Linked DNA regions of Homo sapiens: all the other regions are linked to region 3. The links come from fine-mapping of genetic effects on gene expression. A gene starts in region 3. Each other region holds a variant in brackets. All regions are shown on one strand. Distances are between the middles of the regions.

Region 1 (9,770 bases), 73 kb after region 3:
CAGTAGTACACGGAGTCTCCTAGGGTTATGTCAGCTGGTCTTCTGCCTTCAAGCAGGATGATACCATGCCAAGGGCATGGACCCCATCACCATTTTGGAAGCATCTCAAGCAATGGATTTCATACCTTCCCTGTGTTGCCAACAGCATCTCGTGCTGCAAAAGGATGCTCTTGGGCCTGGGGTTTTCCTAGAAGTATAAATAGGCCAGACGGGAAAGAAATGTGAAATCTGGCCGGGCGCAGTGGCCCACGCCTGTAATCCCAGCACTTTGGGAGGCCAAGGTGGGCGGATCACCGAGGTGCCAGGAGTTCAGGTCCAGCCTGGCCAACATAGCAAAACTCTGTCTCTACTAAAAAAAATACAAAAGTTAGCCAGGCACAGTGGCACATGCCTGTAATCCCAGCACTTTGGGAGGCCAAGGTGGGGTATAAATAGGCCAGACGGGAAAGAAATGTGAAATCTGGCCGGGCACGGTGGCTCACGCCTGTAATCCCAGCACTCTGGGAGGCCAAGGTGGGCGGATCACCAAGGCACCAGGAGTTCAAGTCCAGCCTGGCAAACATGGCAAAACCCTGTCTCTACTTAAAAAAATACAAAAATTAGCCAGGCACAGTGGCGCACACCTGTAATCCCAGCTACTCAGGAGGCTGAGGCAGGAGAATCGCTTGAACCCAGGAGGCGGAGGTTATGGTGAGCCGAGATCGTGCCACTGCACTCCAGCCTGGGTGACAGAGCGGGACTCCATCTCAAAGAAAAAAAAAAGAAATGTGAAATCTGTCAGTTTCTCATGGTGCTTGAATAGGGCTGACAGACAGAAATTGAGAGAAAAGGAGACATTTTAGTGATCAGTTCCCCTTCCTCTCTACATTTCCCCTTGGGGAAGGACTTTCCTGCCTGAGCCAAAGCCAAGTCCCTATTCCAGGCCTCAGGGAATGTGTCAAAGTTCAGCAGGGAGAATGAGCCAAGCTACATTATTTCCACAGGAGCAGGAACAGAATGCCTCAGAGGCAAGTATCTGTGTCTCTTATGGGTGCATGAGGTCATACCTAGTAAAGATCAAGTGGGGAAGTGTCCAGTTCGTACCGTGGGCAAAATTCTCAGATGGCCCCCAAGTCCCCTTCATGCTAGTGTACACATCCTATATAATCCCCTTCCCTTGAGTATGGGCAGGATGAGTGAATGTGATGGGACATCACTCCAATGATTAGGTTACCAATTGGTTGATTTTGAGTTAATAAAAAGAAACATCACCCAGGGTGGGTCTGAGCTAATCAGGTCAGCCCTATAAATGAAGCTGAAGCCCCAGACAGACACTGTGCCGTTAGCCTTGAAGGACCAAGCTATCAGGTTATGAAGCAGGCCACATGGTAGGGGACAGCAGGCAACCTCTAGTGACTGAGGGCCTAAGTCCTGTGATTACAAGGAATTGAATTGTGCCAACAAGAGCGAGCTCAAAGGAGGACCCCACACCTTAGATGATATTGCAGCCCTGACTGATATCTTGGTTTCAGCCTGGTGAGATCCCGAGCAGATAACCCAGATGAGCTGTGCCCAGACTAGATTCACAGAGCTGCATGAGAAATAAACAGGTGCTACTTTAAGTGGCTGGATTTGTGGTCATGTGTTACACAGCAATAGATGAGGAATACACTTGGTGTGGTTTAGAGCACCTTGAAGACCCCTCCAATAGGGGGATTGTGATAGCACTGGGAGCTTCCTCCTGCTCAGGGCCTTGTCCCTCATGAAATGCAAGTAACTTTGGGAGAAGCCATATAGGAAGGCTTAGTTGCCATTTACACATTAATCTGCGTGAGTTCCAACGATCTCCAAGGGTAGAGTTGGATGTTGGGGGAGACAGAATGATGTCCCCAGGTTTGGGAATGGGGAATGGGAATGGCCAGGCTGGAAGCACTGGAGGCAAGCACTAAGGATGTCTCATTTTATCTGGGATTGTCCTTGGGGATTGGGGTTGAATCCACAAGGTGTCCTGAGCTAAGAGGCTACCTCTGCTAGCGTGGAATGGGGCACCCATCACACCCTGCAGGGAGGGAGCAGAGGGCACGGCTGGGCTGTGGGAGGCAGGCATTCATTCTGGCTGCAGCCTTTGGGGGCTCCAGTGGAGCAGGAAGCAGGTTGAAGTGTTGTGCTGAGGGATGAAGTATGGCCTTTCTATCTGTACCCTCGCCATCCATGATCCCTGGAGAACAATCTGTACCCTCCCCACCCATGATCCCTGGAGAACACGGGACGTCCCTGTTCTTGCCTTGAGTCGTTCATCTCAGCGCACCCATCCCGATTCTTCGTTCATTCGGGAAGGACACCACGTGTAAGTGGCATGTCTGGTTGTGAATAGGAAACACTCGCACTTCCCAAACTTCTCTGAGGGCTGATCAGAGTCTAGGATGCCACCATTTAAGCCCATCACCTTCACACAGGCCTTGTCCCTTATTTAAAGGCAGAAGCCTCTGGGGGCATGGCTGTCATACCTCCCCAGTCCTTTCCTGAGAAGTTTCCATAGGGAGGAAAAGTGAGAGCGTAGCAACCTGAGAGGAGAAAACCCACGGACAGGAGGACAGAGCCGAGAGGAGGCACGCTGGCCCCCTGACAGAAGTTTTCCTGGGATCAGATCTGCCCAGGTGAGGTGCCATGCCCCCGAGCCCACCCCACCCAGCCCTGCCCTGGTTGGACAGCTCCCACCGTAAGAGCAGAGGTGACTCAAATTGGGGAACTCTTGGTAATGGTGGCCTGGAGGGACCCCCATTCTTGAGACACCCACTCAACTTTTTAGCAAATCCACGTTTACTGAGCAGCTAACTATGTACTGGGAACACACAGATGGTCCAACCCCAATCCCGACCCTTCTGATGTTCCCAGGGAAAGGAGCCACCCCAACACAGAGACATGGTTGCTGGGGAGGAGCAGGGAAGCACGAGGAGCTGTGAGGGTTTTTAGCATTTATGTTTTTCATTGTTTAGGGGAGGAGCGGGGAAGCACGAGGAGCTGTGAGGTTTTTTAGCATTTCTGTTTTTCATTGTTTATTGTTTTAAAGTGTGCACAAAAGTAGAAACGACAGTGTTATAAACTCCCCCGTAGCTATCATCCAGCTGTAACCATTTTATTAATATTTATTAACATTAATATTGTGTCATCTAACTCTTCCACATTTTTTGACAGAATATTTTAACACAACTTCAAGATATCATGCATTTTACCCATAAGTACTTCTGTATGCATCTCTGACATGAACTTAAAAAAAAAAAAAAAAAGAAGAAAAGAAAAGAAAAAAACAGAGACAAGGTCTCACTGTTTTGCCCAGGCTGGAGTGCTGTGGTACAATCATAGCTCACTGTAATCTCCAACTCCTTGGGCTCAAGCAGTCCTCCCACCTCAGCCTTCCCAGTAGCTGAGGACCACAGGCGTGCGCGCACCAGGACACCCAGTTAATTTTTTTTTTTTTTTCAAGAGAGAGACAAGGTCTAGCTATGTTGCCCAGCCTGGTCGCAAACTCCTGAGCTCAAGCAATCTTCTCTCCTTAGCCTCCCAAGATGCTAGGACTGCAGGCCTGAGCTAATGCGCCCGGCCATGAACATTTTGTAATACCCGCCACAGCATCGATATCTGAACGCCATATGCAGCACCTCCCTCCTGGCCCTTGAGACATCACTAGTCCCCAGAACGGACCCCTCCGTCCTACACCTCTAGGAGTCTTGCCACGTGGCCAGGACGTTCTAGGCGGTTCAGACTTTAGCTGCCCAGGAGCGCCCCCCCGCCCCCGTCCATTCCTGGGCCCCACCCGAGTGTGGCCGGGTGACTCCACCACTCCTCAGAAGGGCTGACCACCCTTCCCCTCTGAGCCCTTCCTCCTCTCTGTCCTCGTCCTTGCAGATTGAAATGCTAGAACATAAGTACGGCGGTCACCTGGTGTCCCGGCGCGCCGCTTGCACCATCCAAACCGCCTTCCGCCAATACCAGCTCAGCAAGAACTTCGAGAAAATCCGCAACTCGCTTCTGGAGAGCCGCCTGCCACGGCGGATCTCCCTGCGCAAGGTGCGGTCACCCACGGCCGAGAGCCTGGCGGCCGAGAAAGCGCTCATGGAGGGCTACGGCCTCGTGGGGCTGCCGCTGGTGCGCTCGCCCTCCCTGCCGCCCACCTTCGCAGGCACCCTCACCGAGCTGGAGGACTCCTTCACCGAGCAGGTGCAATCCCTGGCCAAGTCCATCGACGACGCGCTCAGCACGTGGAGCCTCAAGACCATGTGCTCCCTGCGGGAGAGTGGCGCTTACCAGCTCCACCAGGCCCTGCAGGCGGCCGCGGGGCCCCCAGGCCTGGAGGCCGAGGGGCGGGCGCCGGAGAGCGCGGGCCCCGGGCCCGGGGATGACGCCGCGGAGACCCCCGGCCTGCCCCCGGCCCACAGCGGGACCCTCATGATGGCTTTCCGGGACGTCACGGTGCAGATCGCCAACCAGAACATATCCGTCTCCTCCTCCACGGCTCTGTCGGTGGCCAACTGCCTGGGCGCTCAGACGGTCCAGGCCCCCGCAGAGCCCGCGGCGGGCAAGGCCGAGCAGGGCGAGACCTCTGGGCGGGAGGCCCCGGAAGCCCCCGCCGTGGGCCGGGAGGACGCGTCAGCCGAGGACTCATGCGCAGAGGCTGCGGCTAGTGGGGCGGCGGATGGGGCCACAGCCCCCAAAACAGAGGAGGAAGAGGAGGAGGAGGAGACGGCGGAGGTGGGGAGAGGGGCCGAGGCCGAGGCAGGCGACTTGGAGCAGCTGAGCAGCAGCAGCACGTCCACCAAGTCCGCCAAGTCAGGCTCGGAGGCGTCGGCCTCCGCCTCCAAGGACGCCCTGCAGGCCATGATCCTGAGCCTGCCGCGCTACCACTGCGAGAACCCAGCCAGCTGCAAGTCGCCCACGCTCTCCACCGACACCCTGCGCAAGCGGCTCTACCGCATCGGCCTCAACCTCTTCAACATGTAAGTCAGCCCCGGCCCCCAGCCCGGAGTCCTGGGCGTCCTGGGAGGGAGGGAAGGAGGAGGGCACCTTCCCTCCACCAAGCAGGGCGCCAGGTAACTTCCCACGTCATGCCAGGGTCCTCCAGGCAGGCGCATCTGTGCCGTGCCTGATCCCTGAGGTCATGTTTAGGAAGTACATATTTTATTTTAATCATCCTGAGTTTATTTTAAGAAAGATTAAAGGAAAAAAATAACACATCAGACACATGCTTTCACAACTGTTACAGCTTAAGATGAAGCTAGGGTTTGAAAAGTAAGAGAATGTAAAAGAAAAGACAGTATTAAGTAAATAACAGTCCAGGCCGTTTGAGGATTACGCAGCAATCATTCGGGTGGATATGAAGCCAGGGAAAACGCATTAGCTCCCAGGGTTGGTGAAATGCGAGGCTGGGTGGGGGAGGGAGGAGAGGCGCCTCGTAAAGAATGCCGGCTGAGAGCAGGAGAGGG[G/A]AGGGCTACGAGGAAGAGAGAGTGTGAAGCAGGCAGAGGCACAGGAGAAAGAGAACAGGGGAGAAATGACCGACCGCCATAGCTCAGAGACCCCAGCGAGACCGGGACTGGTCCTGCACCGAATGTATACAGCCAGTCCCAAGCAGAGGAAAGGAAGCACACCTGCCCCTCCCATGGAAATGTCAGGTCCAGGAGGCAGGCACTCGCCTCCATCCTCCACTCGCCCCTTCATAACCCTGCGCCAAGAGCACATCTCCCCGGCCCTAATGCGTGTTCATTCGTTCATTCGGCTGTTATTTATTGGGTGCCAGGCACTGTGACCACAGAGGTGAGAAGGACACATCCCCTGGCCTCAAGAGGCTCCTATTCTAGGGGAAGTAGCTACTGTTCATAGCTCACCTTACATAAAGCATCTGTAATCTTCCAGCAGTATCTACACAGAGGTATTACCATGCTGTTTTACAGAAAAGAAGCCGGCTCACACCAGTAAGGCGAAATGCACACGATGAAATAGCTAGTACTCGGCAGACCTAGGGAAAGGCGGATCTGACTCTGAACCACTCCCACTTCTGCAGTGTCTCTTCTGCATGCACATGAAAACTCATACAGACACTCATCTGCCCCAAGACAGGAATTCTTAAACTATCCATAGTGAAGAACCAGTTTTGTTCCCCCACACCCTTCTGAAAATACATTGTGGGCTAATACTTTTGTAAAATACAATAAAAATGAGGTGCTAGAAAGACAATCACATGCCTGGCTGTCCCGGAAAATGTCGAAATGCTATGGGAGGTTCTCAGTGCTTACCTTGTGTTTCTGTACTTATCTCCTCCCGGACCTGTGAGGAACAGCTCAGGGAGCAGCATGGCTTCAAAGCTTGCAAAGGGAAGAGGTGGTGTGGCGGAGGTCTCACCTCTGTTTCTCCCACCCTCTCTCCAGGGTTGGGGCGTCTGCGGTGGGGACCTGCATATTGACAACAGGATATGGGTAGGGGGAAGGGCAGGACTGGGGTAAGACCCAGGAGGCAGGGACAGAGAAGGGTACTTCTCCTCCATCTGCTCTGGAATTCACTTTGTTTGCAGATCTCCCCTGTCCTCCTTCTGGTCACACACCATCCTCTGCGTGAGGACATTCAGTGGGTTGAGGCTCTGGTGAGAGAAGCTTCAATGGGGAACTGGATTTCCAAGAACCTCTGGGTACTTCTATGGGTGGAAGACAGGGAGGAAAGAGTCATGGATGGCTTCAGCTCACTCTCTACTGCTTCTCCCCACCCCCACCTCCAGAAACCCCGACAAGGGCATCCAGTTCCTGATCTCACGCGGCTTCATCCCGGACACCCCCATCGGTGTGGCCCATTTCCTCCTCCAGCGAAAGGGCCTCAGCCGCCAGATGATTGGAGAGTTCCTGGGCAACAGCAAGAAGCAGTTCAACCGCGACGTGCTGGAGTGAGTACCCCACACTCCGGGCTTTCCCCACTCCTTCCCACACCCCACCTGCCCGGGCTCTCTCTGTGAGCTCCTTGGTGAAATCCTCGCTCCAGTTCTAACAGCTTCCAGCTTCCAGATTGTCCACAGGAACCAGAATCCCCTCTTTAGCCCATCACCCCAGTGGGCCGGAGCCCTGTCTCCCGTCAGAGTCATTGATTGAGTTCGCCCCAGGCCAGGCTTCGTTTGAGGCAGCAGGGATACAGAAATGGTCCAAAGAGACAAAAAGCCCTTTCTGCCTGTCACTCTCCAGGGCAAGAGAAACCAGGAAAAGGAAAGGGCTTGTGTCAGCACTGGGGTTCATCTCTGCCTGGTGAAGAGCCCCTCAGCCCCCCTCCCCCAGGACCCTCCCATTCTCCAAGGTTCATTTTCATATCGCTGGAGGCAAAAATGTGAGACAGAAAAAAGAAGGGGTTAAACTGAGGGTTTTAGAGCAAGAAAATACTACAATTCCATAAAGATAAATCTACCAACAAAATCATGACCAAAGAAAAATTGTTTCTTTAAAACCAAAGAAAATGGTTTTAAAGTCCAGTAGCAGGGTGGGGACCCCCAGGGGGCTGCCTTTGCCCCCGCTCAGCCTTGATAGTGTGGACAGGCAAGAGTCTCTTCACACTCATGCCTTGTCCAGAATGGCAGGGCGGGGCTGGCGCTCCTCTGAGGCTGAGGGGCCTTGCAGCTACTCCTTCCCTGGGACATCGGCTTCAGCCCCTGCCATGCCCCCGTGCTCTTTCTGGCTTCCACTGGTCCCCGAGGTTGGCCTCCTTCTTGAAGGTCTCCATTCTTCAGGGACCCTCCCTCATTTCTCTCCCCTCTTTCTCCTTGGGGACAGTCAGCAGAAGTGTCTCCCCGGAGGCCCTGGGAAGAGCTCTCCCTTTCATCCTCGCTCCTGGAGCAGCAAGGGACTGCCAGAGAGGGTTTGGACGCTGGGGGAGTCATCCACCCAGTGGTCAGCTTCCCTGGAGTGGGAGCTTGGATATTTCACTTCTATTTATGGAGCTGTCTTGGTGCTGTGTGCCCATATTGAGAAGCCCCTGTCCTCTGGGCCTGCGTTTCCATGCCTGCAGAGTGGTGCTGGGTTGTGAGGGCTGGACCCATTGCCCTCTGAAATCCCTGTCACATTTCTAAATCCACTGACGCGGTGGTTTTCTGACTGAGTTCAATGAGTGAGGGCTGGGGTTCGCACAGGTACCTTGAAATCCCTGCACAGCCCTCAGCTGGGCAGAACTGAGTTCCTGTCCCTGACTCTTGGTGGCTTTTGACAATTTATCATCCCTCCTGGAGCTGCTGGTGGAGACGCTCTGTGGACCTCAAAGAGGAAAGAGAGACAATGCTAGGCAGCGCCTCCCTCTCACCTCCTTTCTCTTCTCCCTCCGGCTTCCCTTCCCTTCCCCAGCACTGCTGTGGGGGCCCATGGAGGTGCTACTGGGATCCAGGATACATCTAGGTTGCAGAAGGGGAGAGATGGCATTTCCTCACGCCCTTCCTTTTCTGTGTCCCCTAGTTGGCTCATCTCTCTGGCTTTCCTGCACTGTTGTCCCAGTCCATCCCTTCCCAAGCCAGGGTGAGGTGCTGGCCCCGTAGCCCCAGGCACCCCTGCTGTCTCTCTGCTCTGGGGGCAGGAGTGACTCTGCTTCACCCACAGGCCCTGACTGTTGTCTGTTTTCTTCTGTCTTTCCCAGTCTCCATGTGGCCTGCGCCCTAAATTCTAACCTGCAAGGCCCACATTGATCTGGAGTGCTGGGAACACAGCGTTTTCCTGCAGCCCAGGTGGTGCTGAGTCGCACAATGGAAACTAATTGCCCTCTTCCCTGGGAGGCTGCGTGTATGGGCTGTGGGCTGGAGGCTTGGAGCAGTGGCTGCAAGCCTGTGCTGAGGAGGGGAGCTGGGCTGGGGGCTGGGGGCTGGGCTAACCTTAGGTAGGGATCAGGCTTGGGATGGGTAGGGGCCAGACTCCCGCGTTGGTACACTCTTCCAGTGAGAAGAGGCAGCGTGGTGAGATAGGAGAAATAGCTGGACCCGGGCTCTGCTCCTCTGTGCTGTGTGGCTTTGGCAGGACACCTCTCTGGGCCTCGGTGTCCTCATCTGTAAAATGAGAGGGCTGGGCGATGTGATTGCAAAAGTTTCTCCAAGTCCTGAGAATCTACCACCTTTCCCATCTCTTAGTGCATTGGTAGCACTGCCCTAAACACTGGGGCATGATTTGTCATCCTGCCAGAGCAGCCCACAGGCCCCAGGGCCGTGCTGGGGTGCCAGAGTTCATGCAGGGCAGTGCTGGGGTGCCAGAGTTCATGCAGGGCAGTGCTGGGGTGCCAGCGTTCATGCAGGGCAGTGCTGGGGTGCCAGCGTTCATGCAGGGCAGTGCTGGGGTGCCAGGGTTCATGCAGGGCAGTGCTGGGGTGCCAGGGTTCATGGGGGAATGAGTTGGCCATTTGTTATTCATTCAACAAACATCGAGCACTTATTTATTGTGTGTTGAGAATGGGGCCACGCTGGGCACCCGTGTGTGTGTGTGTGTGTGTGTGTGTGTGTGTGTGTGTGTGAAGAGGCATGGCTCACAGTCTCAGGGAACGTACAGACCCAGGTGTGGATGGGGAGAGGTGAGAAGCAGGAGCATGGAAAGAGAGTGAGAAGAGCAAGGGGCCTCCAGCCGGAACCCTGGCTTGGGCAAGGTTGAGTGCAGAGCTAAGCCCTGATATGCCCTGGTGAAAGCCGCAATCCCTCATGCTTGATTGTGTAGCCCTGCAGGCCTGGCATGCTGACTCAGCGCCACAGAAAGGAGCCCCTCCCTGAAGTCCATAGGTCACTGACTGCCTTGCTTCTCTCC
Region 2 (9,770 bases), 100 kb after region 3:
CAAGCGACTGGTTTGTCTTACACGCTGGAGTAGATGCCAGGTGTCTCTGTGATCCCTTCGCTCTCGCACACCTGCATCTCTGCAGTATAGAAAGGGTGGAGGTGTCATATCTGCAGGCCGCAGCCTGGGGCAGGGGATGCCCTCAAGGTTACGGAGGGAAGCAGGTTGACAGTGGCTGGACTGGAACAGCCTGCAAGCTCTTCTCAATTTCCTATTCCTGTCCCTCTATCCCCTCATTTACTGTGGCTCAGTGGGCCCCTTCTCTGGCCGTGCTCCCCAAGAAGCATGACAGGGATGAGCCCTGGGACAGGGGGTGAACGTGCGAGGGAAAGAGCCTCAGACGAGGAGAGAGAAGGATGAGAGTCAAGTCCAGGCCCCAGGACAGAACCGGAGCCCCTCCCCTCCCTCTCCACAAAACCGAACCCCTCCCCTCTCCTCCCTCCACAGAACCGGAGCCCTCCCCTCCCCCTCCACAGAACCGGACCCCTCCCCTCCCCTCCCTCCACAGAACCGGACCCCTCCCCTCCCCTCCCTCCACAGAACCGGACCCCTCCCCTCCCCTCCCTCCACAGAACCGGACCCCTCCCCTCTCCTCCCTCCACAGAACCGGACCCCTCCCCTCTCCTCCCTCCACAGAACCGGGCCCCTCCCCTCTCCCGGGCTGTCTCCTCTTCTGGAAAATGGGCGCGTGGGTGGGGAGGCCTCCAGGCCTCTGGTCTCTCCCGCTGAGCGCCCTGCCCGCGTGCAGGTGCTGTCCGTGCCCCACCGCCGCCTGGTGTGCTGCAGCCGGCTCTTCGAGGTGACGGATGTGAACAAGCTGCAGAAGCAGGCAGCGCATCAGAGGGAGGTGTTCCTCTTCAATGACCTGCTGGTGGTGAGTGGCCTCCGCTCCGGGACTGGGCTGGGCTGGGGCTGCCTCTGCCGCCCTGGTCAGCCTGGGCAGGGTCCCTGAAGTGGGCAGGAAAGGACGCCCAGAGCTTTCAGACAGAATGCCTGTTCCGTGGGACGGATCTGCCTTCATGGTGCTTTCACACCGTGGGCGTGAGGGGGCTCAGGCAGACATGCTAATTCCTACCTCATAAGTCATGACACCGAGACGTCAGATGATCTGCTCGTGGTTGCACAAACTGTTAACGAACTAGTTCCCAGACCACTGGCCTCTCCACGTTACAGGAAGCCCAGGACAGGGAGTGCACAGGGCTGTGCCTCAGACCCCAGGGCCTGGGAGGAGCAGGGCCTAGGCGGAGCATGCTCTGTCCCTGGGCCTAGGCGAGGCTGGTGTGTGTGTGTGCGTGCACACACATACACACATCTGTACCCACAGATACTTTTTTTGCTCTTTGAAAAGAAGTATCCATTCAACAAATATTTGATCAGCGTTGACCATGTGCCAGGCATCATTGTAGGTCTGGAAAACTGGTGAGCAGGACTGGAGCAGGGCTTGTGTCTCCCTCGCACCGGCCCTCTCTATCCATGAGCCACGTTGGCACTGCCTCCAAAGTGATCACAAGCCTGAACCACCTCTCACCACCTCCACTACTACAGTCTTAGTGCACGCCTGGTACATTCAGTGAACCACATCAGCCTCCACACGGCTCTCCCCACCCCCCTGAGAGCAGCAGCGTGATCTCTCTGGAGTGCACATCAGGCCACGTGTCCCCTTTCCCTAACCTGCCTCCCCGCCCTCTCCTCAGCCCTGGGAGGCGCCTCCCTCCTGTGGGCCAGGCCTTTGTACTTGCTGCTCCTTCTTGCAAAGCTCCTCCAGACCTTGCACTCTCCTCTTGCCTTCCTGGCCTCCTCCTTTTCATTCAAGTCTCAAATCACTTTTGATTCCTTACCCTGTTTCATTTTCTTCAAAACACGTAGCACTTTGGTTTTGTTTTTTTGCTGTTATGCTTTATTGTTTGATCACCTGATGGACACTGTGACACTCCACATTCCATAAGCACCTTAAGGGCAGGGGCTCTGTCCTGAGTTCTCCTGTATCTCCAGGGCTCAGCTCACAGAAGCTGCTGAATAGAAATTTGTTTATTAAGCAACCAGATGACTTTACTAAAACGAGCTTTCATTTTAGTAGGGGAGGGAGATAGAAAATAATTAAGAAACAGACAAACAAGATAATATCAGATTGGGGGAAGGCACTATGAAGGCCACAAACCAGGTGATAGTACAGAGAGTGACTGGAGTTAAGGGCCAGGTTTGGGCTTGCTTTGGTTTGTTTTTTAGAGGAGGTGATCCAGGAAGGCATCTCTAAGGAGGTAGCATTTGAGACTTAAGTAATGAGAGTAATGCAGCCGTGCAAAAAGCTGCCGGGAGAGCTGTGGAGTGGGAACAGTGTATGCGAGGGGCCCACAGTGGAACTGAGCTTGCCCTTCTCAAGCTACAGCAGGGAGGACACTTGGGCAGAAGGCCAGAGTAAGGCAAGGACCACATCAGGTGGGTTTTACAGGCCAGCTCAGGCGCCGTGGCTTGGCTTCTAAGTACAGAGGGAATAACCACTGTAGGGTTTTGTGCAGTGAAGAAGCACATTTTGGGATAGTGTGTGCACATATATGTATATCTGTACCTGTATGTGCACATTCATCACTGCGTGGGTTTGTGTGATCGTGCATCCCCCGGGTGTTTGTGCATCCATGTGTCCGTGAGTGTCTGTTCATCAGGGCATGCCTGTTTCCCTCTCCTGAACAGATTCTCAAACTTTGCCCGAAGAAGAAGAGCTCCTCCACGTACACCTTTTGCAAGTCAGTTGGCCTGCTGGGCATGCAGTTCCAGCTCTTTGAGAACGAGTGTAAGTCTTTGACAGCCAGTGTAAGTCTTTGAGAAGGAATGAATGGATGAAATGGCTGGGGCGAGTTGAGGGAGAAGGGCTGGACAGCAGAGTGGGTGGAGGCATGAGACCCCGTGCCCTCCTCATGTCTGGCTGGCTCTGGCCCTCGGCTGCTGCTGCTCACAGCCCACTGGGGGCCTGGGGTCTGCTTTCCAGATTACTCTCATGGCATCACACTGGTGACCCCGCTCTCGGGCTCCGAGAAGAAGCAGGTGCTGCATTTCTGTGCCCTGGGCTCGGACGAGATGCAGAAGTTCGTGGAGGACCTGAAGGAGTCCATTGCTGAGGTGACGGAGCTGGAGCAGATCCGAATAGAGTGTAAGGACACGGGCTCCCGAGGCAGCTGGTGGGGGTTCCCATTCAGCAAGGGACAGGGGCAGCTTGAGACAGACATGCCTGACTCCAGGGAGCTGGCCCCACTTCGGACCCTCCCCGTGTCCAGGCCCCACCGCACCACACTCCCACAGCCCGGGTGGGAGCACCGGTTCCCATGTTTCTTCACAATTAAAGTGAGGCTTGCTAGAGTGCACACACGTGTGTACACAGATCAGCAGGCATGTGGGGCTGCGCGTGGGCCTCTTGGAACAGAGAGCTCTGCTGTTTTACCAGGATGACCAAGCGAGCTGGCCAGGCAGGCCCATGGGGCTCTGGTGCGTTCCTTCCCACCAAACCGTCTGCTGTCACCTCCCCCACTGTGGCCCAAGTCTGTACACTGCATCTGGTTGGCCTCATTTCTTCACTCTCTTTTAATCTTGAATCATCCCTCCACTTCATTTTTTTTAAAACATTGTCCTTTTGAAGAGTCTAGGCTGCCTTCTTACTATCCCGCATCTTACAGTAGTCTCTGTTCCTATAAGGAATGCTTAGATTCTAGATTGTTCCATTCAGGCATTTTAGAGAATATGTGGGTCTCTTTCTGTGTCCAGGTGGTTTACTGGCTGCTGTGGGGTTAAGGGAAGAGAGGCAAGGGCCTGCAACCTGTACCCATCTGCAAGCTTGTCCTGATTAAGCATCACGGAGGCGCCAGATAGCCTTTAAGGGAAGACTAAATAAGAACAGATTCAGAAACTGAAACAGAAAATGAAAATAGGCTTCAGGCCTGCCTCTATGGCCACTTAGTTATAAAGTGTTTCTGAACTAATATCTGTCCATTAGGCGCTAGGAAAGGCAGGGAGAGTTTTTGAGCAGGGGATGAATGTGACAGGCTGGTGCTTTTGAATCATCATTTTTGAGGCTCCTACTACACACTAAGCAGTTTATTTCTGTTGTGTGGATCCTCACAGTGACGCTGCAAGGTAGGTGCATTGACCCCACTCTGCAGCTGAGGCTCGGAGTTCAGCCGCGTGTCCAGGTCGCGCATGTTAGAAACTGTCATTTTCATTTACGTTTGATTCTATACTTTCCACTGGAGAGTGAGAGAAGAGGTTCTGTTTATTTTTTTCTAAGGAAACAATTTAAACCAGGGTAAAATGGGATCCATCGGACTGGACTCTGGAACTCAGGTAACTGCTTGGTGGGGAGGGGCGCGTGGAAACTCCCTTCCTTCAATCTGTTGGCTTATTTGAGTTCAGTGGTGAAACAAACAGATTCTTTTCAA[G/C]GGCTGGACCGGATCCCCAGAGAGGCCGCCTCTGCTGTTTTTCTGGAGCATTTTCAAGGAAGCACCTTGAAATGGCTTCACGTCTCTCATTGTCTAACTGTCCCAGATGGCTCCGCACTGCCCTGGGGGGCCGTAGCACACCAAGTGGCACCAGCATTGCTGGGAGAGGCACTTTCCCCCATCAGCCCAGGAGCAGCACATACCCCGCTTCCCAAAGTCACAGAGGAGCAGATAGCGTCAGAATCTGTCATGTCAGGAGGTGAATATCCTCTCCTGCTGCCTCAAGGGTAAAAGAGCAGGAAGAAAGGCTCATGCTTGGCCCTTAGTCTTCACTGGAGAGAAAGGGAAGGAACAGCTGAGGGAAGAGGAAGGGTAGGCCAGGGAGACAGGGAGGAAAGGAAGCCAGGAAAAAAAAAAAAAAGAAAATGGGCTGGGCTCAGTGGCTCACACCTGTAATCCTAGCACTCTGGGAAGCTCAGGAGGGAGGATTGCTTGAGCCCAGAAGCTCAAGAACAGCCAACACAGCGAGTCCTCGTCTCTACAAAAAAGAAAAGAAAATGGAAAACAGTATCAGCTACCATTTATTGAGGACTAATCCTCACAACAGCTTTCCACAGTGGGCATCATTTTACAAGTAAGGAAACAGGCTAAAAGCACTTAGGGAAGTTGTCCAAGTTCACAGTCAGTGACAAAACAAGGTTTGCATCCAATGGCCCAGGACTCCTCACTTGTAATTATCAGGCTAATTTCTCCAAAGCCAAGAGAGCCCCTCTGTGGGGAGAGAAACAACTCTCAGTTGAGTAGAAATATTTAGCATTGATCGATGGGATGGTGTGATTTAGGCAACCAGGACAAATTGTTCTGGTTTGGGGGCCTACGGTTCAGTGTCCCTGGTTTCTAGACAACCAGAGAGACTGAAAATGGAGCCCAGGAGAGTAGCTTTAATAAAAGGAACTTGAGTTATGTCTCCTGGAAAAGAGAAGCGGGAGGAGTGATTTAATAATCATGTCAAATCTCCAAGGATGGCAGCCGGCAGTTCTGTAGCTCCACTGAGAGAAGAACAAGAAGGAACAGGTTTCCAATCCAGTGAGAGGAATTAAAGTTGAGTACCTAGACAGATGTCCTAGCACTGCAGGCTTGTAGCTTCCACACCCTCGGTGTGGACTTTCCTCCTTGGGAGAGATTTGAACACCTTGCGGAGGCTCAGCTGGCCAGGCAGGCTCTGTCCTCCCAGGCAGGCTCCGTCCTCCCAGGCGCCGGGTGGAGAGGTGGGTGTCACCCCTGTCAGCAGGCTCTGCTGTGCCAAGTGCGTTTCACACAATGTAACAAAACTGATACAGGTTGGTGCTAAAGTAATTGCGGTTTTTGCCATTACTTTCGCACAAACCTTAATACTTAAGGAGTACAGGTCACTAGCCAGGCCTTGTGCTTTATGTGTATCTCCCACGCAGTCCTCTTAATGACACCGTGAAGTGGGCCTGGCTGTCCTCTCGAGTGAGGCATGGAGAGGTTGGGTAACTTGCCTAAAACCACACAGCCAGGGAGTGTCAGGACCAGGACCCAAACCCAGGCAGTTCACCTCCCTCACATCGGCCTCTTCTGTGCCTCTCTGACGTTCAAGCAGATAGGATCATCCCCATGTACAGATGACGAAACTGCGGCTCCGAGGGGGTATTTAACTTGCTATTCAGTGGTGGGGCCAGACCCGAGGTCCGTGTTTCACAGCATGTACTGGGACCTCTCCTCCTCTTCCTCCCCTTTCTGCTGGCCCCTCATTTCCTGCCTCGCCTCTGTGTGGTTGAGGTTAAGGTTTCTCTTGCTCACGGGCCTCTGCATTCCTTAGGGGAGCTGGAGAAGCAGCAGGGAACAAAGACACTCTCCTTCAAGCCCTGCGGAGCCCAGGGGGACCCACAGTCAAAGCAAGGATCGCCGACAGGTGAGCCTCGGCTCCGCTCAGGGCACCAGTCCCCATGGAGGCCACTCGGGGACCCTGGGTGTGGGTCCTGGGCAATCTGCAGGGAGAGGTGCCCATTCCCGTGGCGTGTTTCTTCCTGCTGAGGAGCGCCAGGCTTGCCTTCTTTAATCTCATGAGCTTTAGTGGTGGGAGTGAGGAGGAAGGCGAGAGAGAAATGTGTCTGTCCATTTTGCAAACTGCACCAGAGGTCTGGAGTCCGTGTGAGATGTCACTGTCTGCCCTGGAGGAGTCAGGCAAGAGTCCTGGCATCCTGGCCCCTGCAGGGAGGCCTTCCCTCCTGCAGCCAGGCTGTCTGGACGAGGCGAGGTCAAGAGAAGCCCCACGAGGAACACTCTCCAACCAGGCAGTGTAAGAGGGCAGGGTGACCAGAAGGATCTGGATCTTGCTCTTCTCTGTACAGTCCCTTCTCTAATGAGCCACAAGCACTTCCTGACCCCTGGCTCAGGTCAGCCCACCCCAAATCCAGAGAGACCCTCAAACTCCACTTCTCTAGTGGTTTCTCCAGTGGAATTGCTCACTCCAGCCGAGTCACACTGGCTCCAGAGCTGGCCCCTCCTTTGGCCTGCCCCAACCTTACCCCACCTGCAGGGGGCCAGGAAAGGTTTCCACCACCTCCCTCCACCAGCCCCAAATAAAGAGCATGAGGGGAGATGCATGAGAATTCAGTCTCATCCCAGTGAAATCCCAGCAAGCCATTCACAACTGTCCACCCATTAGTTAACTCGGTCACTTACTCTCACACTCAACAAACACTTCTCGAATGGCTGCTGCCCTGTGCAGAACACTGGAAAGCCAGGGTCATAGTGAGACGCCAGCTTGAGCTGAGAAGCTCCAGTGGGCCCCGTGTGGTCCATGACCCGCCACAGTCGGCCCTGAGTCCTGACTTGGAACAGGCAGCAGCGTGGGGACTAGTTACGGCAGCGAGGACATGAGATTCACTTTCCAAGCAGGACATGGGGCTCTTTTCGCTATGTGGAGATTCTGTGATGGAATCTTTCCTGTATGGGTTTGACCTGCCATCGTGCGTCCGTAATTCTCCACGCTGCCTGATCTCCACTGGCCTCTTCATTTCTATAAGGTCATAGGGCACGGGTTGCTGCTTTTGTTTTCTCAGCTGTGGAACCCCAGAGCCAGCCCTCAGCTGTGTGTCATTCCCTGCCATTCCTTCCTGCCTCTCTTTTGGAAGCTGCCCGCCCTGGTTAGGCCCAGATGCCTGTCCCCAGGGACGTGTCCCTTAGTCCCCTCCACAGCGGGGTCTTTCTCATTCCCAAACAATGGTGCAGCTCCCTCTCCTGCTGCAGGAAGCAGAGGGCTGAGCACAGCAGGGGGAAGCTGGCACCCCCAGGGGTTGGGAAATGAGAGGGGCTCCTGCGGGGGTCGGGGTGGAAGCTGGGAGTGACTCAGCCACAAAGAGCCAATGAGCTGTCCGTGGGGGTCCGCAGGGCCCCTGCTGCTGTGCCAGGCCGGCCAGAAGGCCCTCAGAGTAATTACAGAGCAGTTATCGGCTCTCACCGTGCCCGGCACTGCGGTGAGTGCTGTGCAGGCCTCAGCCCATTCAGTCCTGCCCCCTCAGCCAGTCTGCAGGGCTGGAGCAAAGAAGCGTGGCCCACGCTCAAGGAGCCTGTGATCCACGGAGGCTGATGAACGTGGCGCCCACAACCCAGGCCCCCTCCAAGCCTTTTACAGTTCGTACTGGGAAGGCTTTGACTGTGGGTAAATCAGATTCCACAATGCCAACATCAGAAAGAGCGGCAGCGATCTTCTAGTCTGCGGCAGCCCAGAGAGATGTAGCATCTCGCCCAGGTCACATAGCTCCTAAGTGGCAGAGTGGGGCTCCCAACCTCCGCCTCAGTGAGGAGCAGTGTGACCCCAAGTCTTAGCTGCAGAGATGCTTGAGGGGCACAGGGGAGGGGCAGGGGCTTGGCTCAGCCGGTGGAGAATGAGCCCTGTGCTCTTTGCATTCAAAGCCAAAAGGGAAGCCGCGCTCAGGGAGAGGCCGGCGGAGAGCACGGTGGAGGTAAGTGGAGCCCTGGTTGCCCAGGTGAGTGACTACCCTGCCCCCTTGTTCTTCTTCTCACCGTCTCTGTTGTTTCTCTTCTCAGGTATTAATCAATGCCTCCCCAGCCCGACTCACCATTTTACCAATTTCAAGAGATACAATTAAAAGTTACTGCTAGCATGGGTAATGCCACTGTTCCAGCGCCTAATTAAGCCACGAGCTCTTTCTCCCCTTTCCCCAGCCTGCTGCCCTCCGAGGCCGAGCTCCCAGACTAACACAGTGGAGACGGAGCTCACGGCACCCTAGGGCCATCCTTCCTGTGTGCCCCCAAATCCACCTCCCCAGCAAATGCTCACTGCTCACTGCTCCCCCAGTACTTGCTGTATCAGAAGACCCCACATCCCGTTCCCCAAGTCCTCCCACCATCCATAGCGGGGAGCCTGGGCTCCCTCGGAGAATTACCCCTTAGGCCCCAAACGATCACTTCTGGGGCAGACCCTGCCCTCTTGGACACCTGGGGCTAGGTTGGAGAATTGAGACTTGGGGGCAGGTGGGAGGGGGAACTCCTCCCCGGAACAACTGGTCCATCTGGAAAGCTGGCCATGGCGCAGGGATGTGTGTGCAAAAGAAAATGAGACAGAGTAGGGTGGGGCTGTCCTGAGGGCTGTCCTGGGGGAAGTGATAAGCTGAAGACTGTCTGTGGTGGAGGGGAGGCTGCCCATTTGGCTCCATGCCATACAGTGAGGGACTGCAGAAGACCCAGCAGCAGCTGGTCCCTGCCAAACCCCCCCAGTGCCACCTATGGGAGGAGTGTGCAGGTGCCCCTACAAGCCTCGTGAGCCCCACCCCTCTCCCACTGGGTCCTCTTGCACCCCAGTGAGTCCCAGCTCCACTCCTTTTCTGCCCGGCCTCCCGGGGCCACCGGCTGCTCATACAGACACCTCCCTTCGCAACCCTAACCTCGACCCGGAGGGGCCCCCATTAGGTGTCTTAGGAAGCTGCCCTACCCATCAGTCTGACTAAGCCCTGGGAAGCAGCAGGATACCCCGGGGGAGCTCAGTGTCTTCTCTCTCCCCCATGGCCCCCCACCCCCCACACACCCGTGTCTGGAGGAGGCACCTTTACAAGGAGGAGCTTCCTGCCCCAGCCGCTGACAAGCCCCCAGGGTGGGTATTCTATTCCCCGCCCCCCTCCACTCCCCATCCTCCACAGCTGCCCATTCTTGAGCCTTGCAGATAAGCACACCCGTGCCCAGCCCTCTGTTCTGTTCTGCCAGCCCTGCCCTGCCCTGCCCTAGCCTGAGCTACCCAGGGAGGACAACCAACCCCACGCACTCCTCCCTCCTGCCCTAACAGCATATGGCTATCTGCAA
Region 3 (9,770 bases):
AAAAGCCATCTGTGACAAACCCACAGCCAACATTATATTGAAGGGGAAAAAGCTGAAAGCATTCCCCCTGAGCACTGGAACAATGTAAGGATGCCCACTTTCACCACTTCTATTCAACATAGTACTGGAAGTCCTAGCCAGAGCAATCAGACAAGAGAAAGAAATAAATGACATCCAAATTGGTAATGAGGAAGTCAAACTGTTGCTATTTGCTGATGATATGATTGTATACCTAGAACACCCTAAGCACTCACCCAAAAAGCTCCGAGATCTGATAAATGAATTCAGTAAAGTTTCAGGATACAAAATCAATGTACACAAATCAGTAACACTGCTAGACTCCAACAGCAACCAAGCTGAGAAACAAAGCAATAACTCAACCCCTTTTACAATAACTGCAAAAAATAAAATAAAATACTTAGGAATATACCTAACCAAGGAGGTGAAAGATCTCTGCAAGGAAAACTACAAAACATTGCTGAAAGAAATCATAGATGACACAAACAAATGGAAACATACCCCATACTCATGAATGAATAGAATCAATATTGTGAAAATGACCATACTGCCAAAAGCAATCTATAAATTCAATGCAATTCTCATCAAAATACCATTATCGTTCTTCACAGAACTAGAAAAAAAAAAAACCTTAAATTCATATGGAACAAAAGAGCCCACATAGCCAAACCAAGACTAAAGAAAAAGATCAAATCTGGAGGCATCACATTACCTGACTTCAAACTATACTACCAGGCTATCATCACCAAAACAGCATGGTACTGGTATAAAAATAGGCACACAGACCAATGGAAGAGACTAGCAATCCCAGAAATAAAGCCAAATACTTACACCCAACTGATCTTTGACAAAGCAAATGAGAACATAAAATAGGGAAAGGACACACTATTCAACAAGTGGTGCTGGGATAATTGGCTAGCCACATGTAGAAGAATAAATCTGCACCCTCATCTCTCACCTTATACAAAAATCAATTCAAGATGAATCAAATACTTAAATCTAAGACCTGAAATCATAAAAATTCTAAAAGATAACATTGGAAAAACTCTTCTAGACATTGGCTTAGGCAAAGAGTTCATGACCAACAACCTGAAAGCAAATGCAACAAAGATAAATAGAAGGACTTAATTAAACTAGAAAGCTTCTGCACAGCAAAAGAAATAATCAGCAGAGTAAACAGACAACCCACAGAGTGGGGGAAATTTTCACAAACTATGCATCCAACACAGGTCTAATATCCAGAATCTACAAGGAACTCAAACAAATCAGCAAGAAAAAAACAAATAATCCCATCAAAAAGTGGGCTAAGGACATAAATAACAATTCTCAAAAGAATATATACAAATGGCCAACAAACATATGAAAAAAATGCTCAACATCACTAGTGATAAGGGAAATGCAAATCAAAACCACAGTGCTGGCCAGACATCGTGGCTCACACCTGTAATCCCAGCACTTTGGGAGGCTGCGGCAGGTGGATCACCTGAGGTCAGGAGTTCAAGACCAACAGGGTGAAACCCACATCTCTACTAAAAACACAAAAATTGCCGGGCATGGTTGTACACTCCTGTAGTCCCAGCTACTTGGTACTTGGGAGGCTGAGGCAGGAGAATCACTTGAACTCCAAAGGCTGAGGCAGATGAATCACTTGAACCCAGGAGGTGGAGGTTGCAGTGAGCTGAGGTCGAGCCACTGCACTCCAGCCTGGGTGACAGAACAAGACTTTATCTCAAAAACAAACAAACAAAACAAACAACAACAACAAAAAACACCACACAATGTGATACCACCTAACTCCTGCAAGAATGGCCATAATTTAAAAATCAAAAAATAATAGATATTGGCATGAATTTGGTGAAAAGGAAACACTTTTACACTGCTGGTGGGAATGTAAACTAGTACGACCACTATGGAAAACAGTATGGAGATTCCTTAAAGAACTAAACGTAGATCTACCATTTGATCCAGCAATCCCACTACTGGGTATTTATCCAGAGGAAAAGAAAGCATTATATGAAAAAAAGACACTTGCACACATATGTTTATAGCAGCACAATTCACAATTGCAAAAATATGAAACCAGCCCAAATGCCCATCAATCAATGAGTGGATTTAAAAAGGAATGAAATAATGGCATTGGCAGCAACCTGGATGGAGTTGGAGATCATTATTCCAAGTGAAGTAACTCAGGAATGGAAAACCAAATATCATATGTTCTCATGTGTAAGTGGGAACTAAGCTATGAGGACTCAAAGGCTTAAGGATGATGCAATGGACTCTGGGGACTTGGGAGAAGGGTGGGAGTGGGGTAAGAGATAAAAGACTACACATTAGGTACGGTGTACACTGCTCAGGTGATGGGTGCTCCAAAATCTCAGAAATCACCACAAAAGAACTTATCTATGTAACCAAACACCACATGTTCCCCAGAAACTATTAAAACAAAAATCATCATAGTAATTTTTAAAATAATAAAAAATTTAAAAAGAAAGACACGAAGTAGTGTATACTGTATGATTTTTATGTGAAATTCCACAACAGACAAAACTAACATATACTGGCAGACAGCAAGTCAGTGGTTAACTGGAGCTGAGGATGAGAGGAACTGACTAAAATAGGGCATGAACATTTGTCAAAATTCATTGAACTGTGCACATAAAATGGGAGCATATCATTGGATATAAATTATAAGTCAACAAAGTTGATTTTTTTAATGAAAAAAGTTTTTAAAATAAAAATTCTTGGTCCCCATTCCTAGTGATTCCAATACAGCAGGACTGGTATTATGGGAGGAGACCACCCCTCATATTGCCTTATGCCCATTTTCTGCCTCCAAAGAAAGAAAAACTAAAAACTAAAAGGCAGAAATGAAATCCACAAGCAGACAGCCCGGCGCCACACCCTGGGCCTGGTAGTTAAAGATCGACCCCTGACCTAATCGGTTATGTTATCTATAGATTACAGACATTGTATAGAAAAGCACTGTGAAAAATCCCTATCCTGTTGTGTTCCGATCTAATTACCGGTGCATGCAGCCCCCAGTCACGTACCCCCTGCTTGCTTAATCGACCACGACCCTCTCACGCGCACCCCCTTAGAGTTGTGAACCCTTAAAAAGGACAGAAATTGCTCACTCGGGGAGCTCAGCTCTTGAGACAGGAGTCTTGCCGATGCCCCCAGCCAAATAAACCCCTTCCTTCTTTAACTCGGTGTCTGAGGAATTTTGTCTGCGGCTTGTCCTGCTACAATATAGGGCTCAGAAATCTGCATTTTCAACAATCCGCATGGATAATTATGCTGCAGGCTGTTTCACTTATCGTATTCGTCTCTAATTTGCTGTCCAAGCACCCAATTCTTGGACAGCAAATCAACTAGGCAAACAAAGAAAATTCAGAAAAAAGAGTTTGAGTTTTTGTGTGCCCTTGTTTCATCCCCCAACCTCCATTCTTTAGCTGGAATGCTGGTCACTACCAAAGCATCCTCCTGTGTGCTGTTTCCCCTAACCGTGAGCTCAGCTGTGGATAAGCTTCCTTTATTCATTCTTTACCAAAGAAAGTTTGCTAGGAAGATAAATGGGAGAAAAGCAAAATAAAAACACATCAGGAATGCAGATAAACCAATATATGTGCAGAGCACAAGTTCCTTCTCATAAGGTCATTCAAGTCTGGCACCACGTGGTGGTGGGGGGTGGGCCAGCTCACTGGGCACATGGTACCCATAAATATGCCTACCCTGGGGGAATGGAAGGTTGACAGGGAGCCTGATGGACATGTGTGTGAAGAACGGAACAACACAATAACAAACATGCGAAGCGTACTCATAGCCCTTCCTCCTTCCCATCCCATTCCTATAAAAGAGGAAAGAACAACTCATTTCCTTCACGGGGCATGGTGGTATGCATCTGTAGTCCCACCTACTCAGGAAGCTGAGGCTAGAGGATTCCTTGATCCCAGGAGGTCAAGGATGGAGTAAGCTATGATCCTGCCACTGCACTCCAGCCTCGGTGACAGACAAGACTTTAAAAAAAAAAAAAAGTAAAGGAAAAGAAAAGGAAAGGGATATTTCCCTGCCAAATTAATTTAAACCAAGTGCTCTATTTCCATTCATTAGTTTTTTCCCTGCTGCCTGATGTATCTTTCTCATATCTGGCCCCCTGTTCTGTCTACCTGTTGAAATATTTCCCATTCTTCGTGGCCCAACTTGAGTAACACCTCTGTCAGAACTTATCAGATCAACACAGTCAAATGAATCCTCTCCCTCCCCTGAACTCTATGGCACTTGGCTTGAAGAGCTCTTACAGAAATCTTGAGTTGTGTTTTACTTATTCATGTGCATGGCATATCTACTCTATGAGATTGGAATCAACTTGATTATAGAAATGATAACTTATTATCTATGCTAGATGTGGCTTGCATAGATTCTGTACATTACTTTGCACCTAGTGAGTGGTGATTATTGTAGACATGAATGAATGATTCAATCGGTGCTGATTAATGTCTCTGAGCTTTTGCTCATGCTGTCTTCCCTTTATGGAAAACCCTTCCCACACCAAGGGTCACTTCCTGTAAGAAGCCTCCCTGGATCTCCAAGCTGCTGGCTCCTATAGCACTCTGGGCAAACCTCTGCCTGATTACTCACCACCACTATCATACGTCAAAGTTAATCATGACCAATTTCACCCACTTATTTATAAGCTTCAAAAAGCCTAACATTCCATTCTAGTCATGCTTCTCTTACCACCATCTAGCACAGTGTTTGGTAATAGTGTGCATTTTATAACTGTTTGTCAAATAGAATGATCTATTCAGAAGCTTCTGGAAGCGTTAGCCCTTGCCACAGAGGACCTCGTTTATTTAGTGTTTCTATCAGGAACTGCCACAGTTGTCTTGAGGTCTCACTCCCAGAGGAAACCCAGCATGAACAGCCTTCCCATCCCAAGTTTCGTCACGGATGAAGGAAGGAGCAGGACCAGACGCTCTTTAGGGTCCCTTAGAGCCCCAGGATTCTTGTGTTCCAGGGAATCCCCTGGCAGAATAGATTGCTGCGAGCAAAAGAGGCGAGTGTGGCCCCTCCTCAGCAGGTCTCTAGATGAACCCCAGCCTCTGGAAGGCCTGGACCTGGGAAAAAAGAATTCGCGTCCCTTCAGGGCCCCACGCCTTCCTGTCCTCCAGCACATTTCTCTTTCTTGGCCCCACCTTCCCTTTTTCTGCTTCCTCTCTGCTGGCCTCTCCCCTTCTCTTCCTTTCTTTTCTGTTTCTCTTCTCCTACAGGTCCCACCGCACCTTCCCAGTATCGCTGCTTCCCCTTCGCCTACTTCCCAGTCTGGCCAGTCAGATTCACCGTCCTTCTCGGGTCGCCTGCGTTATCTTGCTTTCCTCCCACGCCCCGACAGAGGCTCCCTCTCGCTGGCCTCCTCCCTCTCCTCTCTGCCCTGCAGGCAGCAGAGCCTTCGCTGACGCCAAGAGGCAGCGAGGTGGGGAGGCGAGGAGTTGGGGAGGTCTGGAGGTAGGGGGTGGGGTGGGGGTGGGGCCTTGCGCAGCCGCCCCGCCCCGCGATGCGTGTGTGAAGGTCGGGGTGGCAGTGACGCGGCGCCGGCGGGGGGAGGGAGGCTGGGCCGGTGGGAGAGGGAGGCGAGCCGACCGCTGGGCTGCTGGGCTCCCGCGCCCTCGCGCTCCCCGCCGCCAGCCCAGGCGCAGGCAGGGCGCAGGCGGCGGCGGGCGGCATGGAGAGCCTGCTGGAGAATCCGGTGCGCGCCGTGCTCTACCTCAAGGAGCTCACGGCCATCGTGCAGAACCAGCAGAGCCTCATCCACACCCAGCGAGAGCGTATCGACGAGCTGGAGCGGCGGCTGGACGAGCTGAGCGCTGAGAACCGCAGCCTGTGGGAGCACCAGCAGCTGCTGCAAGCCCAGCCTCCGCCCGGGCTCGTCCCCCCGTCATCGGCCCCGCTGCCGGCCGCTCCGGCCACCGCTCCTGCCGCCGCCGCCAGGGCCCAGGAACCTCTCCAGGACCAGGGACAGCGCTCAGCAGCCGCGCCGCATCCCGCGCCCGATCGGCCGCCGCGTCAGCACCACGGACAGCTCCTGGAGCAGCCCCAGCGGGGCCCTGGCAGCAGGGCTCACACACCCCAGTCGCCCCACAAGCATCTGGGGACACAAGGGGCCGTGACTGACAAGGAGAAGGAGCGTCCCCCGAGTTGCTGCGCTGCTGCCGGAGCCCTCCTTCAGCACAAATCCCCCTCCGCCCTCGGCAAGGGCGTCCTGAGCAGGAGACCTGAGTGAGCGGGGAGAGGAGATGGGCACTGTTGTGGTGGGAGCAAGGGAAGCAAGTGGGTGTGAGGGAGAGACGGGGACGTTGGGTGCGTAGGAGTCTAAAGGACCGGAGTGATGTGGCCTGAAGGCGCCAGAAGTGTGCAAAGGAGATTTTGGGTAAATGAGGGAACGATATCCCTGCTTGAGAAGGTTTTGGGGAATGCTGGAGCAAAAAGGAGTAACCAGACCATTAGTAGGAGCAAAGGAGGAAGGAGGTGGGTGTTAAGCGATTGGTGATACTGGGAACTGACAGCATTTAAACGGGGTTAGGCTGGGTTGAAGTTCGAGTGAAGATTAAACTGTAGAAAAGAGAACCATTGAAGGAATCTTTTTAAGTGAGAAAAAATTTGGAAGGAAGTTTGGGTAGTAAAAGTATTTGCATGGAGACTGAGATGTGAGAAAAGCTGAAGGCTTGGAAAGAGGCATGTGAAGAGCTTTAAAAAGGCTGGGGCCCAGGAAGAGTAGGACTGGGGTAGAGGGGAATCCAGGAGGCCGGGGACAAACCTGAAAAGCAGGAGTGATGTGGGAAACCAAGGGAGCTGGAGGCAGAGGAAGAGAAAATGTGGCTCTTTAGCTGGTGAAGTGGGAGCCACAGCTAGGAGTGGCTCATTTAGGGAAGCTTTCTCTTCTCTGACCTGATTGGACACCCTTCCTCTGAATTCCCGCAGAGCCGAAGAGGTGCAAGGGAACATCCCATCAAACCAATGGAGGACTCAGGCATGGCTTGAGGACTCAGTCTGGTTACAGCTTTTTCCTCCAACTCAAGGAGGGTTTTTCATACAGGGTGTTTGGCCGTTGTTGAAAGGGAGCAATGACATGGGGGACAGTTGGCAGATGGAGTTGGTATTCAGATGCCATGCCTGTTTAAATCTCCCTGTTAAGGCCAGCAACTGCAAACCCTTTTTTCCCGGTTATCTGGTGATCACTGAAATCTTGCCTTGGGTCCTGAGAGAAATGTTAACCTCTCAGTTCCTAGAACTTCAAGCTCTTTCTTCACTCAGGAGGTCCATGAACTAGGAATATGGGAAGAAGATATGAAAGTGTCTGGGATGTTCTCTCCTCTGTACTGGAAAGGCTGTGGCCATGTCTGCTTCTTTTCTCTGATTAGGCAAGTGATGGAGAACTAAACAAAGAACAGTTCAAGGGAAATTGTCCCTGGTCAGCACCTGACCTTGACAATGGTGATGCATAAGGGAATGGGGAGGGGGAAGTAGAGCTGAGAATCTCATCTTCATCCAGGTGCATTAAGTCTGGGAGATACTTGTGAATATTTGCTGTATTCCTTCAAAACTCATTTTCTTTTACCATCTGTGGTAGAGTTAGAGAAGTTGGGTTAGGGCAGGGTAGCTCACAGAGCACGTTGATCAAAACCACAGGATCTAAGAGGTGAAGGTCTAACATGATCTGGCTTGGCAGACTTAAAACATTTGATTCAAGTCCCAAGAAGATACAGTTTTCTACCCCAACTCCCTCAAAACCCCTTTGTACTTCCCTCAGTTTCACATTTTTATTTTTATTTTTTCCTTATCTGGCATAAAAAGCAGAAAGTCAGTTTTCCCTCAATGCCCAAGGCTCAGCAAAAGGCAACATTGTTCCAAGATACTAAGTGGTCTTTTCCCCCACATGAGGGGATGAATTTTTCCAGTCCCCTTCCCTGAGGGCAGCCACAGCTACCTGGTCATTATGATTTCTCTCCTCATGACTTTTGGTGTCTCCTGTCTCTCCCACTGCAACTCCACTTTCTTTGCATCTCTTCAGGGCACTGTGTGGCCAAGAAGAGTTGAGGAAAGATTATTTTTCTTAGACAAAGACATAGCCATAGCCTTCAGAGTGGCCTACGGAACCCAAACCCTTTCACTCAGTTGGTCCTGCTCGGAATCCTGGGATTTAGGAATCATCTGGGCTCCTGTCCAGCTCCACATGTCAATTCTGGAGAGGAGTTATAATATCCTCACCTTTCCTTCTCACCTGTCCTGCTTTTGCTTCCCAAAGGAGCAGAACAAAAATAAAAAATAATTAGCATGGTGGAGCAGAGTGGAAGTTATTGGAATCTTTCACTTAGAAAGTTGCCCCAGGCACTTAACAGTAATGCCTTACTTTCTCCAGATTCTCCAGCTTTTTCTCCTGCTCCCCAATCCTGCACACTCAGAAACATAGAGACCATAGATGTGCCTGCCTCCCCTCATCCCTGCAGCTCTCCTTCCTTGGATGTGAAAACATGGTAATCTTGGCTGGTTGAATATCTTCTGGACCACTCATTTCTTTCCCCACAGTGGCCCAACTTCAACACCAATTTCCCCACAGAGCTCAGGACGGAATCACCATTGCTAATGACATGTTTCGTCCTACCCTGCTCTCTGCCCGTGGCCCGTTTTGTATGTTTGTTCTCCTCTGCCCATAGTTGTCTATGATGCAGGACAAGATGGAGCCAGCAGGCAGACAGAGATCTCCATGGAGAGGGAGAGGTGAGGAGGAGGAGAGCAGAGCCAGCAGCCCCCTCCCTGGTATTGCTCCTGGGGAGCTCCCCGCAGAACTGGTTCTCTACTGGGAGTGCTGAAGCGGGAGGAAGAGATGGCACAGTGGGTCTTCCAATCATGGGTTTCCTGTGAATCCTCCCTCATTCTTCCTCTGGCCTCCTTTCAGCAAGAACGCGACCCCACTGAGGTGGCTGAAGAGTGGGTGAGGGTTTCCAGAGGCCAGGCACTCTGGTAGATGCATTATGTCCTCACACAGTTTGACTTTTATCCCCAGAACTCCTCTTCCTACCCAATTCCAGGAGAGGCAGAAGCCCTAGATAACTGGGACTGGAAAATAATGAATCATTTAATTGCCATCTTATCTGCATTAATACATAATCTGGCCTCTCTCCCTCCTTCAGCTGAGGGAGACACAAAGGTGGTGGTCTTGGAGGTCAGTCCAAGAAAGCAGCAATATGTGGGTGAGTGAATGCAGAGATATTATGGAAGAAAAACATTTGAAGGGTTAAAATTATTTCTCTGCATGCTTCTTGATTCTTGCTAAGCTCTGACCCCCACTGCTTTTGCCTCTTAATGAAAGCAGCAAACATAGCTTCCTCCTCCTTATTTTTTCAATCAAGGCTCACGGCATCTACAGAATTTATTACTATCCCTTTCCTGGCTGGTGCCAGAACCTCAACTTGACCTGACAAATCCTCTTGCCATGGAAGCACATGAACTTATCTGAAGTGGCTGGCTTCAGTGGCTTCTAAGCACATTTGCCCAACCACCAGTCATGCGTTTAGTGTCCATGGATGACAGGGCTTGTCCATGTCTCCAAGGCCACAGGCAGATGATTGCTGGAGGATAAATTCTTGCATCCCCATTCAAATTCATCTCCTACTCCAAATCCCAACCTCAATATGACTATGAAGTCTGAAGGGCTCCACAGCTCCTGTCTTCTCTCTGTTACATTGCTTCTTCCT

Evidence for each region. PIP is the estimated chance that this variant, and not a neighbour inherited with it, causes the effect.
Region 1: its variant is fine-mapped to the expression of IQSEC3 in whole blood (TOPMed, PIP above 0.99). The same link has a PIP of 0.9 or more in aorta, atrial appendage, lung, thyroid, tibial artery and visceral fat.
Region 2: its variant is fine-mapped to the expression of IQSEC3 in skeletal muscle (GTEx, PIP 0.98).

What each region holds. Positions count from the first base shown.
Region 1 is chr12:134,382-144,151 of GRCh38, forward strand. It overlaps IQSEC3 (IQ motif and Sec7 domain ArfGEF 3), which reads left to right. Exons shown (of 14, transcript NM_001170738.2): 4 at 3,886-4,973; 5 at 6,743-6,904. IQSEC3-AS3 (IQSEC3 antisense RNA 3) reads right to left here. Exons shown (of 10, transcript NR_033859.2): 3 at 8,858-9,028; 4 at 6,953-8,252; 5 at 6,531-6,863; 6 at 6,267-6,422; 7 at 5,859-5,989; 8 at 4,170-4,263; 9 at 3,919-4,071; 10 at 3,030-3,246. Among named protein-coding and RNA genes, the nearest start is that of IQSEC3-AS3, 9.9 kb to the right of the region's middle. The variant G/A (reference allele first, on the strand shown) is at 5,460.
Region 2 is chr12:162,746-172,515 of GRCh38, forward strand. IQSEC3 (IQ motif and Sec7 domain ArfGEF 3) reads left to right here. Exons shown (of 14, transcript NM_001170738.2): 9 at 749-874; 10 at 2,689-2,788; 11 at 2,984-3,145; 12 at 6,268-6,360; 13 at 8,367-8,416. It overlaps IQSEC3-AS1 (IQSEC3 antisense RNA 1), which reads right to left. Exons shown (of 3, transcript NR_183431.1): 2 at 2,567-4,962; 3 at 1,875-2,012. Among named protein-coding and RNA genes, the nearest start is that of IQSEC3-AS1, 15 kb to the right of the region's middle. RefSeq lists a silencer at 5,593-6,066. The variant G/C (reference allele first, on the strand shown) is at 4,425.
Region 3 is chr12:61,143-70,912 of GRCh38, forward strand. It overlaps IQSEC3 (IQ motif and Sec7 domain ArfGEF 3), which reads left to right and starts at 5,625. Exons shown (of 14, transcript NM_001170738.2): 1 at 5,625-6,294. The coding sequence starts at 5,741.